Linked DNA regions of Homo sapiens. The protein of the gene in region 1 interacts with the protein of each later gene in a biochemical or structural test. Each region holds a gene or a part of one and is shown in the gene's direction. Other genes may lie near its edges.

What was found.
Region 2: the proteins of SCGN (region 1) and CROCC form a complex in vitro, tested with the Homo sapiens proteins (one study listed by BioGRID).
Region 3: the proteins of SCGN (region 1) and KIF5B form a complex in vitro, tested with the Homo sapiens proteins (one study listed by BioGRID).

What each region holds. Positions count from the first base shown.
Region 1 is NC_000006.12:25,696,659-25,702,606, forward strand, and holds the end of SCGN (secretagogin), read left to right. Parts: intron 1-767; exon of another isoform or gene 768-2,316; intron 2,317-4,548; coding exon 4,549-4,677; 3' UTR 4,678-5,125; downstream 5,126-5,948.
Region 2 is NC_000001.11:16,917,432-16,925,284, forward strand, and holds the start of CROCC (rootletin), read left to right. Parts: upstream 1-4,499; 5' UTR 4,500-4,587; coding exon 4,588-4,647; intron 4,648-5,231; coding exon 5,232-5,367; intron 5,368-6,893; coding exon 6,894-7,048; intron 7,049-7,853. UniProt on the Homo sapiens protein: Major structural component of the ciliary rootlet, a cytoskeletal-like structure in ciliated cells which originates from the basal body at the proximal end of a cilium and extends proximally toward the cell nucleus.
Region 3 is NC_000010.11:32,046,072-32,053,950, reverse strand, and holds part of KIF5B (kinesin-1 heavy chain), read left to right. Parts: intron 1-3,427; exon of another isoform or gene 3,428-3,641; intron 3,642-5,399; coding exon 5,400-5,487; intron 5,488-7,879. UniProt on the Homo sapiens protein: Microtubule-dependent motor required for normal distribution of mitochondria and lysosomes. Can induce formation of neurite-like membrane protrusions in non-neuronal cells in a ZFYVE27-dependent manner.

The sequences.
Region 1 (5,948 bases):
TTTTAGCAAACATCTGAAGAAAGAGCAGGTGTGCTTTCCCATTTCCTTCTTCAACGTCCTTTCCTCAAACCTGACTTTTCTTCCCCTCACTACCCAGAAAGTTGCTGATGACTTCATTTTGACCTAGCTTTGTCTATCACGGAAGATAGCATTCTGGTATATATACTATATGTTTTCGCATTATTATGTTAGGGACTTAACGTGCTGCCATCTCTTGGGTGATGAAAAACTTTGAAAAGAGAGGATAGGTGGCAAGGAGAAGAAAATGTAATCCCAAAGAGTGAATATCTAACAAAAGAATGTTTTTTGTTAGATATAAAAGAATGTGGTGGAAACTAGCGATGGGAAGAAAGTTGAAAGACTGAAGAGGTTCTTCCTGGAGCTTCTCAAATTAAAGCACTGCTGGGTACACCACTCTCTAGGAGACTTCCCAGTATCTGAGCAGACGTTTCCATTTGCCTAGTAAAGTGATCCTAAAGGAACACCAATGTAATTTCTTATTTTCATTTTAAAAAGCAATGGCAGGTGATAATTTGTAAACAAGCAGAGGCTTGTTGGTAGAGACCTGGACAGATATCTTAAGCAATAATGTCTTAACTTCTGCCTGTCGCCTCAATGTTTTCAAACACCAGTGTGGCCAATAAATAGCAAACTGGAGACAGAAAACATGTTGTAATTTTGCATGGTTACAGAATAAGGTTCTGGTTAATTAAATATTTTGATTGGTAGAGAATTATTTTAAGTGGGTTACAATAAAATGCACTTACCATCAGTGAAACTCTAATTCAGTTCCTCTAGTGGTCAGAATATGGTCCAGTGTTGGAGTCATGATGACTCTAGGATAGAGATTTGTGAAGTGCTGGTTAACAGAAGGCTTGGATATGAACTTTAATTATTTTAAGAGAATTGGAATGTACAGGAAAGGGTAGGTGTATGACAAAAACAGGAAGGCTGCATTTGAGGATAGTCATTCACTAATTTCATAGATATAATTGAGCACCTACTATGGGCAAGAATTGGGAAGAGAAGGCCAGCCCCAAAGGTCCCCCTATTGCCAAGATTAAAGGGAGACAGGTCAGCATTTTTCAATCAATTTTATTTCAGATCCACTCTCACACTGTCCTATGAGATGAAAGAGGAAAAAGTTACATTTTTACATGAAAGATTATGATACAGTGTAGTGATAAAAAATATACACTTTGGGACCTGACTGCCTGGATTTGTATCTTGGTTCTGACATGTGTCAGCTGTGTGACAGTGGGCAAGTTAATTAACCTCTCTGTGCTTTAGTTTACTCATCTATAAATTAATGATGAAAGTAGATACAACCTCCTAGGGTTGTTCTGAAGATTAGAGTTAATATATTTAGAGCTCTTACCTCAGGAACCTATCTGCACTTATATTAGTCACTTGTTATAAAAACTGTTGTTAAGACTGAGGCTCTAAAGGTTTCTGGTGATTTGTCTTCAGTGACACGTGCATTTTTGAGCTGTGGCATTTAGGTCTCCTGACTCATATTGAGTTGCCCAATATTAAAAACATAACTCAAAAGGTCCAAAGGAACTTCCTTTACATACATCCACATTCATTCCCACATCCCCTAATACACATGCATTCATACACCAAAAATATTTTCTACTCACTTGAAGGAAATAATTACTATGGTGGGAAACAAAGTCCATTATTCTTCAATTAGAAAACAAAACAAAACAAAACAAAAACAAACTTAGAATAGTTTGAATGAGGTAAATACATTGGCAAATTAATTCACACTAATGTGTAAATGACTACCACTTGAGTATTTTCTAATAATGGGATTTGCCAAAAGGATCCTGGGGCCGTTTAGTGGAGAAAAGTTTTACCAACAAGTCACTGAAGATGCTGAAAAGCAAACATCCCCACATTGCACTGTACAACAAATGAACTCCCACCAGGGGGTCTCAGAATGCAGCCTGCTGTTTTCAGGACCTCTGAGCCACATTTCCTTGGGCCACATCTATACTTGCCTGGTACTGGCAGAGAACTACAAGAGAACCTATTGACAAGGTCGAGTTACATTGTGGCCTCAGAGTCTAATCATTCAGGCCACTCTCCACAGAAGAGTGAAGTTGATCAAGTTTATCTTCTGGTCCCAGACTTTCAGCTCCTGATATCTCTCTGAATACCAGGCCTACTCTGGTGTTTATTTTTCCTGCTCTGCCATCTGGCTCCCAATTTCTGTTGCTCTTTCCTCCTTCCTCCTATTTTAAACCTGCTATCAATAATAGATTTGGTGTCAGTCATTTACCCCATTGGACAGTGCAAATTAACGAGTCTTAACGTGGCTTGGCTAGTTAAGGAACAATTTTTTTTTCTTCCCCTACTGATGATGTTTTTAGTGATTTTGTTTTTGGAAGCAAGAAAACCTTGGGGCAGGGTTGGGTAATGGAGAGTGCTTCCCAGAGCCCCTGAAATCAAACCTGCGGGTCGCTGCCTTCTCTATTCACTCATAAAACTACTCCAGTAATCAAGGGGCTTGGAAATTTGACTAAATTTGTTTTTTGTTTTTCTCTCTGTACATTGACTTTTAAATTTAGATTTGTGAACAGAAGTTTTCTGAAAAGGAATTTGGTGGAAAGGCTTTATTCCCGTTAATAGTTTGAAAACGGGACTGGGCACAATGGCTCAGGACTCTAATCCCAGCACTTTGGGAGGCCGAGGCAGGTGTGTCATCTCAGGTCAGGAGTTTGAGATCAGCCTGGCCAACATGGTGAAACCCTGTCTCTACTGAAAAAATACAAAATTAGCCGGGTGTGGTGGTGGGCACCTGTAATCCCAGCTACTTGGGAGGGTGAGGCTGGAGAGTTGCTTGAACCTGGGAGGCGGAGGTTGCAATGAGCTGAGATGGCACCACTGCACTCCAGCTTGGTGACAAGACTGAAACTCTGTCTCAAAAAAAAAAAAAAAAAAAAAGAAAAGAAAATGGGAAAATGGAGGACACACTTTTCAGTGTAAACCAGGGTGCAGAGAACAAAAGGGGGTTTGGATTTTACAAAGTCAGTGCCCACCCATGTTGCCAGTTAGTTCTGTTTGTGCAAATAAAGGATTCAAACTTGCTTAGTTCTGATTGGTTATTGGAGCCAAGTTCTGATTGGTCAATAGAGCTGAGTCCTGATTGGTTAATTTAACTGAGTTCTGATTGGTTGGTTCGGGTGAGCTCTGAAAGCCCTAAAAAGAAAAAGGTGCTGGTTTTCAGGGTACTTGAGTAAGCTGTCATCTCTAGTCAAAAAAGGGCCACTTGGATCTATTTTAAATTTAGGGCCAGTGGCCGGGCACGGTGGCTCACTCCTGTAATCCTAGCACTTTGGGAGGCCAAGGTGGGCGGATCACCAGGGGTCAGGAGTTTAAGACCAGCCTGGCCAACAGGATGAAACCCTATCTCTACTAAAATACAAAAATTAGCCGGGCATGATGGCGGGTGACTGTAAGCCCAGCCACTCGGGAAGCTGAGATGGGAGAATCGCTTGAACCCGGGAGACGGTAGTTGCAGTGAGCCGAGATCACTGCCACTGCACTCCAGCAGGGACGGCTGCGACTTCGTCTCAAAAAAAAAAAAAAAAAAAAATTTTGGGCCAGTAAACCACGTGAGATCCATTTTGAAGGATGGGCTCTTTGATTTTGACGTTTATTCACAGATGCATCAGCACACATGTAGTTTCATTAGACCAGCCTTTTCTCCATGAGAATGGTATGAAATTTTGCAATGAGCACTCAATTGGAATCAGAGGACTATTGAGGACTGTCTCCAATTGTCAGAGGACTGTTGGACTATTCTTGGGCTCAAAAATGCTGCCACAACTTTCCAGCTTGGCAGGAAGCTTAAGCTTTCTCTGCACCTCTGTTTCCTAATTTGTAAAAGAGGTGGAATTATTTACTTCCCAGCATTATTGTGAAGCTTACATGAAATAACCTATGGAGAATCAATTTGTTAAAGCATTCCTCACTTTTGCAGGCCTTTGAGCTTGAAGTAAAAAACTTTTCCTAGCTAACATGTGTCACGTTTCTAGCTAACATTCTTTCTTGCCCCCTAACATATCCCTTGGAGTAAATATTACATCCCTAGCTCAACCACATGTTTTAAATTTACATTCAGTATAACCATTTTTTTTTAAACCAGAGGCACAAAAATCTCCTACAAGGAGATAATGAAATGTGTCTTCTCTCATCAGTGCAGCAAGGCAGAAATTTATGATCATAATTGCCTACTTTGCGGCAAAGTATCTTTACTATGGTTGCTAATAAGGCAGTCTTTTTCTAAGAACTGCAGGGAAGTGATGTGGAAGTAAAGGTTTTTTGGCCTGAAGGGACATGCTGAGAAATGAAGCTGTTGGCAGAAAACTTATCCTTGGCAGCATTTGGTGGGATGAGGCGATAGACTCATTCCCTCACTCCCTGTGGCCTGTCTCCTTCAAGGCAGGACACCCTAAGCTTAGGGAGCATCAGAGAGGGTGTTAAAGGGTGAGAACACCATTGGCTTGCCTGTTAACATGTTACTTTTGTCGCCCTCAGCCCAGCATCAGCGGGGTGGACCTTGATAAGTTCCGCGAGATTCTCCTGCGTCACTGCGACGTGAACAAGGATGGAAAAATTCAGAAGTCTGAGCTGGCTTTGTGTCTTGGGCTGAAAATCAACCCATAATCCCAGACTGCTTTGCCTTTTGCTCTTACTATGTTTCTGTGATCTTGCTGGTAGAATTGTATCTGTGCATTGATGTTGGGAACACAGTGGGCAAACTCACAAATGGTGTGCTATTCTTGGGCAAGAACAGGGACGCTAGGGCCTTCCTTCCACCGGCGTGATCTATCCCTGTCTCACTGAAAGCCCCTGTGTAGTGTCTGTGTTGTTTTCCCTTGACCCTGGGCTTTCCTATCCTCCCAAAGACTCAGCTCCCCTGTTAGATGGCTCTGCCTGTCCTTCCCCAGTCACCAGGGTGGGGGGGACAGGGGCAGCTGAGTGCATTCATTTTGTGCTTTTCTTGTGGGCTTTCTGCTTAGTCTGAAAGGTGTGTGGCATTCATGGCAATCCTGTAACTTCAACATAGATTTTTTTGTGTGTGTGGAAATAAATCTGCAATTGGAAACAAAAATGTACTGGTAATTGCTTTTGTCTTGTGACCTTTGAAATGTTCTACCTGATGGTTTGACTAACAAACCCCTTATCTAATGGGGATCGGGGGAATGGTGGAGAAGGAGAGTGAAGGGCAATATCTTAAAAGAAATCCACACCACCAATCCTTCTATAGTCCTCACATGCCCTCACTAGGGCTGACTTCCTGGTGAGCTGGCATTAAAGTGAGAGCTGCCAATAATCACTTTTTATTGGAAGGAGGAGACCAGAACACTCATCCTGGACTGGGGTTTGTTCTTAAGTGCTTGGTGAGCTCACATGGCTAGGCAGGTAGATATAGAGAAGAAGTATGAAGAAAATGTTTCCCAAGTAACCCGGGCTCCCCTCTCCATCCCTTCCTTTTCCAACAGTGCTCCCCAGCAAATCTGGGACCACGACAGCCTTCTTCTAGGTACGTGAGTGCCTCTCATGGGTGCCTCTGCATGCTCCTGGCCCCAACATGTGCCCTGCTCTCTTCTCTCCTGGAACTCTGATGCCATCCCCATGGAAAGGAGACTGTTGGGGCAAGGGGAGAGTTTCTGCAGGGTAGGCCCCACTTTCCTTTACTGTCTTCATCCTTTATTCTTCATAACACCCCTACCTTATACTAGACTGTGTAGTAATTTCAGGCTTAGTGAAGTGTTACAGATAATTCAGAAAAATTAGTGTAGAACAGTGTATTTAGAGCTGTTCATAACCCACGAATTCTGTTTACAGGGGTTCCCTTCATTGCACACCGTCGTCCTAACCTGATTTTCTTCCCTTCATGTCACCCTTACCTCCAACATATAGATAATTCATAT
Region 2 (7,853 bases), on another chromosome or scaffold:
CTTTGAGGGGCTTTTTGGCTAGTTCCTGCCGCTAGCCCTGGCAAAAGGCAAGTTTGGAGGGTGGTAGTGGGGAGGGAAGGGTACAAAGGGTGTCTCCTCTGTATTTGGTCACCAAATAATGTCTCAGCATCTAGAACAAGGCACAGGGTTCTAGCTTGGGGACTAGAAAGAGCCAATAATACTCATGATAGTAATGATAACAGTAGTAATAGCCAACACTTACCCGCTGTTGAACTGCAGGTAGTAATTAAGGTAACACTAGCTAATGTGATAGTGAAACCCTGAATTCTCAGAGGCTTAGCGCAATAGAAGTTTATTTCTCATTCATGAAAAGCCCTGTTGGGTGTTTGGCAGGTGGCTTTCTATGTGGCGACCCAGGGACCGAGATCCCTTCTGTCTTGTGGTTGCGGCATCCCCTAGGACCTTGGAGTTATTTCCTTCTAGCTGATGGACCAGGAAGGAGAGAAATAATTTTATGGACCAAGCCTAAAGTGGCACGCTGTCTTTCTGTCTTAATTCTATGGACCAGAACTTGACCACATGGCCGTATCTGACTGCAAGGGAGTCTGGGAAATGGCTTTTAGCCATATTCCTAAGAGGAATCGGAAATGCTTTGTGGTGAGCACATTGCAGTTTCTGCCACACCATATCCAGGCATATAGCTTAGCACGGAGTATTTTATTTAATGCTCATGCTAGAAACAGGCACCATTATTATCCCATTTTGCAGATGAGGAAACTGAAGCTCAGAGAAGTGAAGACACTGGTGCAGGGTCACACAGCTGGTGAGGGGCTGGTGAGCCAAGATTGGAGTCCAGGTGGCCAGATGCTGAAGCTGTTAGCATCCAGATTTCTAAGAGGAATTCAGTCTTTTTTTTTTTTTTTTTTTTTTTGGAGAATTGGGTGGAAGCAGTGGACACATACACGAGGTTCAGATATGACTTCCTGGGACCCACAGAACCCAGCAGGACTCTGGGGGAGAACTTTGGGGATGGAGCCAAGGGTGAATGTCACCTGGTGCCAGGGGCTGACATCCTGTCCCCTTCCTCCAACCCTTAGGGCCGTGGTCAGGAGAAGGCACAGAATAATCCAGTTCAGTCCCTCAAGGACATCTGGGGCCCCCTCTGCTGAGCTGGGCATGCAGGGCTGGACATGCTGGTCCAGGGGTATTTTTGGCTTCCCCCCTGTTCTGGTGGGCAGGTGTGCAGCCTGTAGAGGGGATTTTTTGGAGGCTGCCTAGAGGTAGAAGAGTGGGCGTCCCTGGGGTTTGTAGTGGCAGCTCTATCTGCTGGCCGGTTTAGTTTTTTGTTTTTGTTTTTTTTTTGAGACAGAGTCTCTCTCTGTCACCCAGGCTGGAGTACAGTGGTGCGATCTCAGCTCACTGCAACCTCTGCCTCCCAGTTTCAAGTGATTCTTGTGCCTCAGCCTCCCGAGTAGCTGGGACTACAGGCACCCACCACCATGCCCAGCTAATTTCTGTATTTTTAGTAGAGACGGGGTTTCACCACGTTGGCCAGGCTGGTCTAGAATTCCTGACCTCAAGTGATCGACCTGCCTCGGCATCCCAGTGTTGGGATTACAGGCATGAGCCACTGCACCTGGCCAGTAGCTGGTTTAGTTTTGCCCAAATCTGGCTTGCTTGCCATTGCAACTTGGCAACATTTATCTTTTCAGACCTGTTTCTTGGTTTTCCATTTGCAGGGCAGTTTCCTTAGTTGGGCGTGAGCGGTCCAGCCTGGACTGATGAGCATTTATACAGCACCGTGGCATTCTGGGTCTGACCTGGATACAGAAGTAGAGCCTCAAAGCGCAAATGCCTCGGCCTTGCCCTTCAGTCACTCATTGGGAGGCTGCTGGTCTAAGTGGAATGAGCTTTGGGCTCACCACTTCCCTGAAGCATGTCGCCTTGAATAGGTGAGAGCCCAATGTCTCTGAGCCTCAGTTTTCTCATCTGGAAATAGGTTGAAGTAAGGATTTAATGAGATAATGTGAATATGCCCCCTTTGGGGCACAGCATGGAGCAGAGGGCACCCAGGGACGGAGGGCTGAGGCATAGCAGTGTAGCAGGACAAGCCGCAGGCAAAACTCTTCAGTCACCAGGTTAAAGAAGGAAGGAACTTTATTCGGCTGGGAACTTCAGGAGACTTGTGTCTTAAAAGCCGAGCTCCTCGAGTGAGCAATTCCTGTCCTTTTTTAGGGCTTACAACTCTAAGGGCAGGAGCCCAGACACGTGATGCTAATGACAATAGGAACAGTGGCCCCCATTGGCTAATAGCTCACCACCTGCCAGGTGTGGTAGGTACTATCAGTCGCATTTTTTTGTTGTTTTTGGTAGGACAGAGTCTCGCTATGTTGCCCAGGCTGGTCTCAAACTCCTGGGCTCAAGCGATTCTCCCATTTTGGCCTCCCAAAGTGCTGGGATTATAGACCTGAATCACCACACTCGGTCTAGTCTCATTTTATTTTATTTTATTTTTTTGAGACAGACTCTTGCCCTGTCACCCAGGCTGGAGTGCTGTGGCACAATCTCGGCTCACTGCAACCTCCTCCTCCTGGGTTCAAGTGATTCCCCTGCCTCAGCCTCCTGAGTAGCTAGGATTATATGCACATGCCACCACGCCCCAGCTAATTTTTTTTATATTTATTTATTTATTTATTTATATTTTTGAGACGGAGTCTTACTGTGTCGCCAGGCTGGAGTGCAGTGGCATGATCTCGCCTCACTGCAACCTCTGCCTCCCAGGTTCAAGCGATTCTCCTGACTCAGCCTCCCAGGTAGCTGGGACTACAGGTGTGCACCACCATGCCTAGCTAATTTTTGTATTTTTAATAGAGACGGGGTTTCACCATGTAGGCCAGGATGGTCTTAATCTCTTGACCTCCTGATCCGCCTGCCTCAGCATCCCAAAGTGCTGGGATTACAGGCCAATTCTTGTATTTTTAGTAGAGATGGGGTTTCACTATGTTGGCCAGGCTGGTCTCAAACTCCTGACCTCAAGTGATCTGCCCGCCTCAGCCTCCCAAAGTGCTGGAATTAGAGGCTTGAGCCACTGCACCTGGCCTGGTTTAGTCTCCTTTTAGAGATGAGAAAACTGAGGCTCAGGGAGGTAACCTGTTCAAGGTCTTACTGTCTTGAACACCATAGTTGCAAGTGACAGAGCTGAGTCTCACATGCAACCTCAGACCTGATACTGACTCCAGAGCTGTGCGCCTAAGCACTAGAGCACATAGCCTCCTTGCCCCAGGGAAAGAACAATGGGAGGTGGTGGGTGACCTCTGGGTCTCAGGGCCCTGGGATATAGGGACTGTGCCTTTTTTTTTTTTTTTTTTGAGACAAAGTTCCACTCTTGTTGCCCAGGCTGGAGTGCAATGGCGCGATCTTGGCTCACTGCAACCTCTGCCTCCTGAGTTCAATCGATTCTCCTGCCTCAGCCTCCCAAGTAGCTGGGATTACAGGTGTGCACCACCACACCCGGCTAATTTTTGTATTTTTGGTAGAGACGGGGTTTCACCATATTGGTCAGGCTGATCTTGAACTCCTGACCTCAGGTGATCCACCCGCTTTGTCCTCCCAAAATGCCGAGATTACAGGCATGAGTGCCTGCGCCTGGCTGGGACTGTACCTTCTGGATTTTCAAATGAATGAAATGAGTATTTCTTGAGTGTTGGCCACGTGACCCCCCAGCACCATGTCATGTGCTGGGTATGCACACACGATACTGTTTCATCCCCGGACGGCTCCGAGAGATGAGTACCAATATTATCACATCTTACGTAAGAGGACACTGAGTCTCAGAGAGGCAAAGTCAGTGTCCCTGGTGCACCCAGCTAGTGGGGGCTGGGGTGGGTGTGAAGGGGCCAGAAGCTTCCCAATAAGTGCCTGAAGGGCAAGGCTAGGGCATTTGTAGTTCGAGGCTCTACCACTGTGTCTAGGTCAGACCTAGGAATGCCGCAGGTGTTGCATAAATGCTCATCAGTCCAGGCTGGACCGCTCATGCCCAACTAAGTGCCAAGCCTGGCCTGGGTGATCTCACAGCCTGCATTCTTTGCCCTACACCTGTTGTGGGAAAACATACTCCCAGCATGCTGTAAATCCTCTCATTCTTAGCTAACCATGTGACTCCCGTTCTGGGCCAGAAAGATGGTCACAAATACTTAGGACTCTGGCCTTTCCCGCCGCATGGCTACTGACCCCACCCCCTGGGCTTGGAGGGCTCTAGGACCCAGCAACCTGCGCAGGGTGAAGAGTGTGTGAGGTCCTGACCTCCAGGTGTCTCCCCTGTTTCCTCCTCCCATTCCCTCTTCTCTCTCCTCCCTCCTTTTCTCTCCCTTCTCCTCCCCTCTCTTCATCCTTCCTCTTCCTTTGGCTCCCTGCCTCTGCTTCCCTCCTCTCCTGTCCTTTCCCATCCCCTCCCTCCTCAGCCCACATCCTGCTCCTCCCACCGCGGTGGTCACATGGGGGCGCCGCCGGATTTAAGCTTAATCTGCCTGGTGCTCAGCACAGCATCCTGGCTGTGGCGCGTGCTGACTGAGCTAGTCTTGGGGTCCTGGAGAAGGGGGCTGGAGGCATGCCCACAGCCTCCCCCCCATGAGCTTGGGGCTGGCGGGGGCACAGGAGGTGGAGCTGACACTAGAGACGGTTATCCAGGTGGGTCCTGGGGGCTGTGCCCACCCTGTCTGGGGCGGGGCAGCGTGGACTTAACAGGAGTGGTGAGAGGTGTGTGCGTCTTGGGGATCAAGGGGTGGGAGAGGTGTGGTGGTGGTGGGGTATACAGGGGCCCCCCGCTTGCAGTTCCTGGCAAGATGGGGGGCAGAGGTACACACAGGGTGCACCTGCTGTGGCTCCCTCATCCCAGTGCCCTGGGTTGGGAGAAGGGGGTCTCTACTGCCAGATTTTAGGGCTTGGGGGACCTCTGGCATAGCCAGATCCTCATCCATCTAGGGTCGGAACCGGATTGGGGCCCCCAACACTGGACTGCCTCCAGTGGGGTTTGGGAGTTACCCGTAGGGTTTGGTTCTCATCTCTGGCCCTGGGCCTTCTTCCTGGGGCAGTGAGCACACAAGAGGCTCTTTGCATGGGGATTTTTTGGATTCTAACTCCCAGGCTTCACTCCATCTTGAGGGGGCTCCTGGGGACCTGTATCTTGGGCAGTAGGATTCTGTGGCTCTCCCCACGAGGCCAGGGAGCCCCGGGTCCCATGTCCCCTGAAGACCCTCTCGCTTTTCCCACAGACACTGGAGAGCAGCGTCCTGTGCCAGGAGAAAGGCTTGGGCGCGCGGGACCTGGCCCAGGACGCTCAGATCACCAGCCTGCCTGCCCTTATCAGGGAGATTGTCACCCGCAACCTCTCCCAGCCTGAGAGCCCAGGTGCCACCCCCATCCGCTCCCCTCCACAAACACCACCCACATTTTACCTCTTCTCATGTCCCTTTCCTGAGCAGTCACCATGATGATCATGACTGTAACTCACTGTGGGGCAGGCACAGCTTTATGACAGAAGAACCCATTTTACAGATGAGGAAACAGAGGCTCAGGGATGTAATTTGTCCAGACTTATTCCGCATGTGGTGCAACTAGAAGGAAGGGCCGAGCATCTCCTGCGTGCTTGCCTGTAGCCTGCTGCAGAGATGTGAACCCCAAATCCCGTATTCCCACCCGGGGAAGGTGTGAGCTGGCTGAACCCAAGATACAGGAAGAGGGCAGCTCAGCTCAGACCAGGGTTTTGCGGAAGTCTGAGTGGATGGCGCCGTCCATCCGTTTCCCACGTGGGCAGGAAGGCGGATGGTCCCTGCTCCTCTCAGTGGGTGGCGCACACGGTGTAGTTATGTGGCTTGAGGATCTGGGAAAGGCACACTCAGTTGCAGCTGGTGTGCTGGCGTGTGGCGTTTTGGTGCTCTAACCATTGTCTGTGTTCAACTCCCAAGCTACAGACGGGCCCCCTCCTTGGGAGCGCCAGGGATGTTGGCGCCCTGGAGCCCCAGACAGGGAGAGACTCAGAGGGCCCTCACCCTGACACCTGGGGTGTATGTCCAGTTCTCCCAGGGTAGAAGGGGAACCCACAGGAGGTGGACAACCCCGCTTCTCCCGCTGGCCTTTCTTTCCCTCTTCTCTCTTTCTCCTTCTCCTCACAACCTGACCTATGCTATGCTCTCCTGAGCCCTAGCCTTTAAAGTTCCATGAAGCCCTTCTCTTGAGCGAGGCTTTGATGCTTTTCTGGGAGGATCTGGTTACTACTATTCTACCTTTTTTTTTTTTTTTTTTTTTTTTGAGACAGAGTCTCGCTGTGTTGCCCAGGCTGGAGTGCAGTGGCGCAATCTCAGCTCACTGCAACCTCCACCTCCCCGGTTCAAGTGATTCTGCTGTCTCAGCCTCCCAAGTAGCTGGGACTACAGGCATACACCACCATGCCCAGCTAATTTTTGTATTTTTAGTAGAGACAGGGCTTCGCCGTGTTGGCCAGGCTAGTCTCAAACTCCTGACCTCAGGTGATCCTCCTATCTCGACTCCCAAAGTGCTGGGATTACAGGCGTGAGTCCGTGCCCGCCCCACCCATATTACAGATAAGTAAATCTGAGGCCCCGGAGAAGAAGACTAATTGGAAAAGGAGGGAGCAAGAACTCAGGGGTCTCCTGGCTCCTAGACTGAGTGTCTCTCCTGCACCTCCCAAACCTGCTGGGCCACACTTTAGCTGGAGTTGTGTTCACTTTACGTCCAGCTTTGTATCCCCTCCTTGCCTTCCTCCCTGTTCTCAGCTCTGTTTGCAGGCCTGGTGCTGCAGCCATTCCCATCTGGACTCCTCCCAGGGGCCTGGATGGTTTTCTTGCCCTCCCTGTTGGGGGGAGGATGTCCCACTGGACCCAGAAGCCAACCATGTGCCCACTGTCCCTTGCCAGTCCTGCTGCCGGCCACAGAGATGGCATCGCTGCTGTCGCTGCAGGAGGAGAACCAGCTGCTGCAGCAGGAGCTGTCCCGCGTGGAGGACCTGCTGGCCCAGAGCCGTGCCGAGCGCGATGAGCTCGCCATTAAGTACAATGCGGTCAGCGAGAGGGTGGGTGCCGCCCAGGTGGTGGACTAGGCCAGGGTTCCCCTCGTTCAAGGGCAGGGAGGCATCTAGACCAGGCCCACACACGGGGCAAAAGATGGGCCCTGGAGTCAGGTTGGCCTGGGCTTGGATTGAGGCTCTGCCACCTTGAGTGGCGTTGAGCAAATCACTATGCTCTTTAAGCCTGTTTTCTGTAGTGGGGATTGTAATGGGACGTGGAATTGTAGGAATCAAGGAGATAATAGAATAAAGTGCCTGGCACCAGGGGTATTTTGTTCCCATCTGTCCCAGGCCTGTTAGGGGTGTGGGACACGGAGAATGAGATCCCTAAAGATTCCTGCCCCTTGAGTTTCTGGGCATCTCCCATTGCCACGGGCCTTGGGGTTGAGGCGGTGGCTGGATGCTGGCTCGAGGCTGGTGTGGGCACCCGCGGTGTTCTGCAGCCCATCTGGGGCAGCCACAAGACCTGCCGCCACTGCCTATTGGAATGAGTTCCAGGCAGGGAAGGAAGGAGAAGCAGGCCTGTCTTCATGTCCAGGCAGGATTCACATCACCCGTGCTGCAGGCTTGTGGGGGTCCCAGGGTGTGGGGCGGGAGCTGGGTGTGAGCCGGTGCGAGGGGTGCGGGATGCTCTTGATGCACTGTCTGCTTTGGGCCTCCGGGTGGCCGGGAGGTGGCCCTGGGAAGTTGGTGGTGGCTGAAGATTGGTAAGGGACACTCGCAGCTGGGACAGAGTGTATGTGTGCAGATGAGAGGCATGCAGGTGGCAATAACGTATTAACAGTAGCTACTGTTTATTGAGTGCCTACTA
Region 3 (7,879 bases), on another chromosome or scaffold:
CAAAGGAAACATACATTTATTCTAGGTTTCCATTGGGAAAAAGTTGCTTATAAGTTCCGTTTCAAAATTTCAGTACTCTATATAAATGGTAATATTAGGAATAATGGATACATTGTTGGTTTGTGAATCCGTAATGAACAGTTAACCTTTAGGTAAGCTGATAAGCATTTTAGTTGTTTTTTGGTTGGTTGGTTGTTTTTTTGAGATTTTTTTTTTTTTTTGAGATATTTTTGAGTTTTGCTCTTGTTGCCCAGGCTGGAGTGCAGTGGGGTGATCTTGGCACACTGCAACCTCCGCCTCCCGGGTTCAAACGATTCTCCTGCCTCAGCCGCCCCAGTAGCTGGGATTACAGGCACGCGCTACCACGCCCAGCTAATTTTTGTATTTTTAGTAGAGATGGGTTTCACCATGTTGGCTAGGGCGGTCTCGAACTCCTGACCTAAGGTGATCCACCTGTCTTGGCCTCCCAAAGTGCTGGGATCACAGGCATGAGCCACCACGCCTGGCCTGGTTTTTTTTTTTTTTTTTTAACGTGTAACCAAAAATACATTACAACTGAATAACATAGCCTTAAAAAATGAAAGGCAACATGTTTTGGTTCATTGTTTTCAGAAACTAGTTTCTTGCATATAGTAACGACATTAATTATTGAGGTCTCATATTTTTGTTCAGTTTTTTAAATGAATTATTTCATTTTGTAAAAGGTTATAAGAGCAGCCAGGAGGAGCGGAATTGGAAAATCTGTGGGTAAAATCTTCTCGGTTTGGTTTTTTCATTTTACTGGTTCCTAATCCTGATTCATAATGAACAGTTTAGGAGAGAATTGCTGCAATGCAGCATTTAAAACTAAATTTTTAAAAACATGATTTAAGAACATTTTGTATACAATCTTCTATTTAGATCAAAATTGAAAGAATATTGTAGTTTATGATGTTAGAAGCATAATCAGTGCTCATGGAGAAAGTAATTTTTAAGGATTCTGATTTTCTTATAACTTGAGTTTTTAATACTTTGTCTAAACTTTTTTCCTGCTACTCATGTAATCAGTGATTTTAATATGACACCATGGCAGGCAAATCTTTCATAGTGTTTCTGTGTATGCTGTACAGCCTTTAATACAGAATTTATTTTTAATTAAGTGCTTGGTGAAGTGCTATAAATGTAACATCGAATGAAATGAATTATTTTATGAAAGTCTTTAAGCGATATACATATAAACTATTTGCTTTAAATTAGAGAACTTGTTACCGCAAAGCAAGGAGGACAGGGAAACAGTTTATGTCTTTGAAATGAGCTTGCTGGAAACACCAGAAAAAAATCAGTAGAAAAAATTAGGAGCTTGCTAAAAACACCAGGAAGAAAAATCAATAAAAAAATTACATCTATCTATTTATGAATCATGAAAGTAGAATATGGTTATTTGCATCATTAAGTATCTTTACAAATCATTATTCCTTATATGGTACACCGTAAAGGCTGCCAAAAACAAGCTGTGGTAGTTCCGAGAAATTAGAAGAGAATAAAACTAATTAGATAATCTTGCCCAGTTCCTTGCCTAAGCAAAACAACATTCTCGCTTTTCAAGTGAATGATTTGGTGTTTGAACCTTCTTGATTACCTTAAGAGGGAAAAATGAAGGAGAGGAGGGAACCATCATCACATACCTTTACAGTTGTGGAATGTTAGCCCACTATAGTGTTTAACTAAGGAAAATCTAATATAATACACTCCCAAGTGATCTGAAATGATCCGCTATTCAGAATTCCAGAGAAAGACATATCCCTGCCAGAAGGGTGTCCTTCATAACCAAATTTGGTCTTCAGTCTGGTCGGTGCATACTCAAACAGGAATCACTTCCCTTAAGGAACCTAAGGTATGCAGTTGAGATCAACTTATTCCTTTTTGATTTGTCCCCTTAAAGCATCAATCAGACGTGAATGCATCTTGTGACTTGGAGTTACTAGTAATATTGAAATCTGAAACTTGGGGGATCTTTGAAGACACATGGGATTAAAAGCTGCATAATGTACATTTCGAGGCTAAAAACCAGGTTTGAAAAATACAGATGTCCAGATGAGTTTTTCTTTAATTTATTTGAAAAATAGAGATATGCCTTAATTATAGACCATTAGAAATAATTTTTGTGTTTCACAGAGTCTTGATTTTCATTCCAGGAAGCCAGAGTCAGTAATTTATGGCTAGATCTTTAATTAAAACATTTGCCTTACTTAGTATTACAAAATCATCATTTGGTTTTGCAATCAAGATAAGACTGTTTTGTCAACTTAATGCTAAGCACTTAATTTTTATTTAACAATAACTTCTAGAAAGATAATCACTCCAGTCTCAATTATTTTTATGTTTGTGTGTTACCTTTTAATAGTTGCCATTTATATTATTTTAGTAAGGTTGTAGTGGTAGTTTATATATTTGCTTGGAGTTGATAACTAGAGTAAGCAGCTTCATAAAGTACTTCTGAAGGCAGGCTTTACTATTAAAACTGTTTACTATTATGAAGCTGTTTACATTATTTCTGGCATATCTCTTGGTAAATGGTTTAGGGGCACTATTTTCTATTGATGTAAAAATTGAGGCCAGGCATGGTGGATCACGCCTGTAATCCCAGCACTTTGGGAGGCTGAGGCAGGTGGATCACTGGAGGTCAGGAGTTTGAGACCAGCCTGGCCAACATGGCAAAACCTCATCTCTACTAAAAATACAAAAATTAGCCAGGCGTGGTGGCACATGCCTGTGGTCCCAGCTACTCAGGAGTATATTTGTAGATACATATAAAATTCTCTTGACATTACTTGATCACTTATATTAGATCCAAGTGTATAACTTAACTTAGTATTCAGGTTTTTATCTGGCCTTATCCTCTATTACTCTTTGAACCCTACAGTCTGTACTAATTATTTCTAAAATTGTGTTACTCATCTACAATATCTCATATCTTTATAGTCACTAAATGAATGTCTGCTGGATAAATGAGGGAAAATTACTTTCTTTTTGCATAGAAAAAACTATTAGTATGGTTTGTTTTTGGGTGGCGATTGTTATTTTGATTGTACTTAACGTTTGTTTTCAGAATTGTTCACCATGAATATATCTTGTGTCAGCAGTAAAATAATAGATTTCTTTTAGTCACACCTGTAGAATTGAATGTTAATTGTTTCAGTAGCATCTGAGAAAAGGATACGTTCACATATGTCACAACTAAAGAATAATCAGACATCGATGCCTATTTTAAATTGATGCCAAAGTGAGATCAGCTTCTTGTATCTGTCAGTAATGCTTTCAGCTTTAGAGGAAAAACCAACAGCTAATAGTGGCTTAAATAAATAAGAGGATGTTTTTCTCACATAACAAAAAGCCTGGATATAGGCCCTTCACGGTTCCTCACTCTGTTATACTTTGTCGTCCTTAGCTGTTGCTTTTCATCATCCTGTTTGTCGTATTTGCAAGATGGATGCTACAGCTCCAGGCATTCATTCCAGGAAGGAGAAAGGGCAGTTTTAGCTGAGATGGTCCTTTTTATCAGGATAACAACACCCTTCTCAGAGACCTCGAACAGACCGCCACTTCATATTATTCAGAGCTTGGTCATGTGACTACTAGTTGCAGGGAGACTAGGCTAACAGGTATTTGGCTTTCCGGCCTATTTATTGGGAGGTAGCAAGGGAAAGGGGAATTGGGAATGGCTTTAGGAGTGTCTGGTTCATTGTTACTTTTATTTCAGACTTTGAAGTGGGGATGTGGAGGGTAGTAGGTCTTTTTCAGCTAAGACTTAGGAAGTGTTTTCTAATGTTAAGGGCTTTTTCTGGGGTCATGATTGTTTTGTGTTTTAGGGCCCAACTTCCTTCCTTTCCTTTAGGAGAAACTAGAGAGCAGGCAGATACTTGCAAATACCTAGAACCCCTTGCCTCTTATTTTTGGATACCTACTCTTTCTCCTAGATTATTAAAATTGTTCCTGCAAGCATTTAAACTACCTCAGGTCTTACAAGTCTTAAAAAAAAAATAACTTTCTTAGACATACAGCAGATTTTCTGCACCACTTGGTTACCTCCCATTCTTTTTCAATCCATTCCAATCTGACCTTTGTCATTGAGTACTTTTTAGTTTTGTCTTGGCCTCACAACTGTATTTGACATAATCACTCCCTCCTTGAAAATTATTATTTTTTGACTTGCATGGACACCACTGATTTTTTTTTTTTGTTCAATACCCCTGGCTCCTTCTCAGACTATATTAGTGGTTCTCTGAGAGTGGTCCATGGAGTCCCCAGTATCATTTCTGGGGTCCAGAAGATCAAAGCTGTTTTCAGAATAAGATGATGTCTTTTTAACCGTTTTGATATTTGCATTTGATCCTTGCTCCTTGTACTTCAACTTAACAACTTCCATTGGTTTCTTGAATGCTACACTGTTCTTTCTGCCTTAGGATCTTTAAGTATCCTCCCAGTGCCTAGACTACTTTCCTACACGAAACCTTTTTCACCCTTCATGACTAATACTGGGGAGAGTGATGATGAGTTAGTTGCTGCGTATTTTTCAGTTCTTAAATATTCTTTCTCCAAGGGTGTTTCCGTGATATTCTGCTTTCCCGTAGACTTAGGTTCTCCTCCTATATTCTCTCATTGCACTTTCATAGCACTCAATTGCATGAGTCAGAATTCTGGTCACTTAATTTTTTAATGTCTGCCCCACTATTATTTATGCTCCACTAAAGCAGAGAGGGAATCTCTTGGTTATCATTCTAGCATGTCATCTCACATTCCATAAGTATTTGTTAAATGAAAGAATGGTTGAAAAGCTGTTGCAGGACAGGCATGGTGGTTCACACCTGTAATCCGAGCACTTGGGGAGGCTGAGGCAGGAGGATCTCTTGAGCCCAGAAGTTCAAGACAAGCCTGGGCAACATAGCATGGTGGCACATGCCTCTAGTCCCAGCTGCTCAGGAGGCTAAGGTGGGAGGATTTCTTGAGCCCAGGAGGTTGAGGCTGCAGTAAGCAGTGATTGTGCCACTGCACTCCAGCCTGGGTGACAGAACCGAGACCCTGTCTCAAAAATAAATAAATAGGTATTTAAAAAAATAAAAATCACTCAGCAATATTTGGCTGCCATAGTAGTGCTAATTATAATTACTGGGAATTATAATTGTAATTACTGGGCCCTGGGAATGCAGCAAAGACTAAAGACCATTCTTGTTTTCCTGGAGTTTATTCTAATGGATTTGTGCATGGTGATCCCTTCTACTTCAAAGATTCAATGATACCAAATTATGCATACTAGGTATACTATTTTGAGGATTAAATATATTATATGATGGCATCTGTAAAGGTTAGAAATGTTCATTTACCTTTAATTTGTATAGTTGAAACACTTTTTTGTTTTTCAGTCCAAGCCTTATGCATTTGATCGGGTGTTCCAGTCAAGCACATCTCAAGAGCAAGTGTATAATGACTGTGCAAAGAAGATTGTTAAAGGTAAATATATTCAACCTGCTGAGTTGTCTCAGCAATAAGTAAATAAGTTTGTGATCTTTTCTACTTACTCAGCTTCCTTTTTTCATTTTAATGCCCCTTTCTTCTAAGTTAATTGCAGAAGAAAGTTGTTTAAATAATAAAAAGGTCAAACACAATTAGTAAATATTCTATTGCTCAAATTCCATGATCTAATTATATACAGTACCTAATTAAGGTTATTATGAGAACTATGTTACACACTTATTCTTAAGAGATGCATTTCTGTTAGATATTCCCAGGAGAGTTTCCAAGGTGGCAGTTCTAGAAAGAGAACAGTATGAGAATGAAAACAAAAGGGCTAGACACATTTCTAAAAAGTAGTGGAAAATGGCAGTCTATCATTCTTCCATTCCATTGTTATTCCTTCCCCAAAGACTTACCTATCCCTTGAGGAATTTAACAAGGGTTGCCAAGGGTGAGAAAAGTATGTACATTCCAGTTAATACTATAACTTATACAAGAATATTTATAACTTTATATATTCTAAAACCATTGAATTTTAAAGCTGAGAGAGTGCTCATTGTTTATCTGGAGTTACTTCCAGTTACTGTAGAAATCTGTTTAATCAAAGGAATGGCTGTTACTTTGTGATATGATTTATTTCATTTTTTGACAGCTGTAGTTGTTACAAAGTGCTTCTTAGATTGAGGCAAAATCTGTGTTGTGGCATTCACCACATTAAAAGAATTGGGATTCAGTATAAAAATAGGTGGATTAGGATAGCATAGGAGCACAGATGCTCATCCTAGTAACAGGAGATAAAGTGGAGTTATAGAAGGTTTATAGATGAGGTGAGGGAGGGAAAATGTGTATGTACTCATTATATCAATTTCATATTGTCTAATACAGGGAGCAAAGTCATCATGGAGATGAGGAAGGGGGAAGAGGTTCTAGGAAAAGGCATGAAATGGATGGATTCAGGCAGTGTGAGAGTATTGCCAGGCAGTATTAAGGGCCCACTCAAGGTTAGCTGCTGAAAGAGTTGAATTTTTGCCCATTTGGAGTTTTGCTAGGTGAGTACAAAAGAGGGAAGTGGGGGACAAGAGAATTGAGGATATAGTCAAAGGAGTGATTATAATGGTGGACCATGGGATCTAAGGTGGTTAAGTTACAGGAAGAAGGATATGAGGGAGGCTGAAGGGCAGTGAAAAAAGGTGGTAACATTAGTGGGTTGTAGATCTCAGTGGGGTCAAAGATTTGTTGGAATCAGGGTACTGGACGGAGTAATAGAAGGTGAATACAGACAGTCCCTGACTTAGAACAACTTAAAATTGTTCGACTTTACGATGGTGCAAAAGCAATACACATTCAATAGAAATATTCAATAGAAATATTTCTAGTACCTGTACAACCATTCTGTTTTTCACTTTCAGTATAGTATTCAATAAATCATATGAAATATTTAACACTTTATTATAAAATAGGCTTTGTGTTAGATGGTTTTGCTGAACTGTAGATCAGTGTACGTGTTCTGAGCACATTTAAAGTAGGCTAGGCTAAGCCATGGTGTTTGGTAGGTTAGATGTGTTTGATGCATTTTCAGCTTAGGGTATTTTCAACTTACAGAACATTTATCAGGAAGTAACCCCATCGTAAGTTGATTAGTATCTCTACTTGAAATTGAGATTATGGAAGCAATGCAGTTAGTAATGAAAAGGTAAAGGTGTTGTCATGGAGTTGACTTCCGAGGTAGTAAAGAAAGGATAAGGCCAGACATGGTGGGTCACACCTGTAATTCCAGCACTTTGGGAGGCTGAGGTGGGAGGATTGCTTGAGGCCAGGAGTTTGAGACCAGCCTGGGCAACAGCGAGACCCCATCTCTGTTTTTAAAATAAAAATGAAGAAAGAATAAGATCGCAGAAAATTTGGTCAAGGAGCTGAGAGGCCAGGTTATTTTAGTGGGATTATCTGCTACAGACTTTGAAACCACCAGTACTGTTTTATTACAACAGTAATGGTATTGGTGAGAGAGAGTGAACTGGGTACTGACATCTTCATAAAATGAAGGGGAATTAACACTTGTAATTGTGTAAATGACTGCAACAAAGAGGAACAGGGTCATCATGTTGTAAGCATCATGTGGTTTTCCAGAGGGATCGATCATAGAACACAATTTTACTACATTCTTTGATTGAGACATACTTCTGTCTCATCAGTACAGTTTAAGATTACATTAGCTTTCTAACCAATAGAAAGTTACCGATTCATGAATTCATGGGCAATTTGAATATACAGGTCTTTTTTGTATCTCTTGCCGCCAGCTTTAAGCCCCATTCCATACTTGCACTTTGGAGAGCAAACCTTTAAAGTGCAGATTCCATTTTGTTCATTTTAGCTCTTAATCATATTTTGA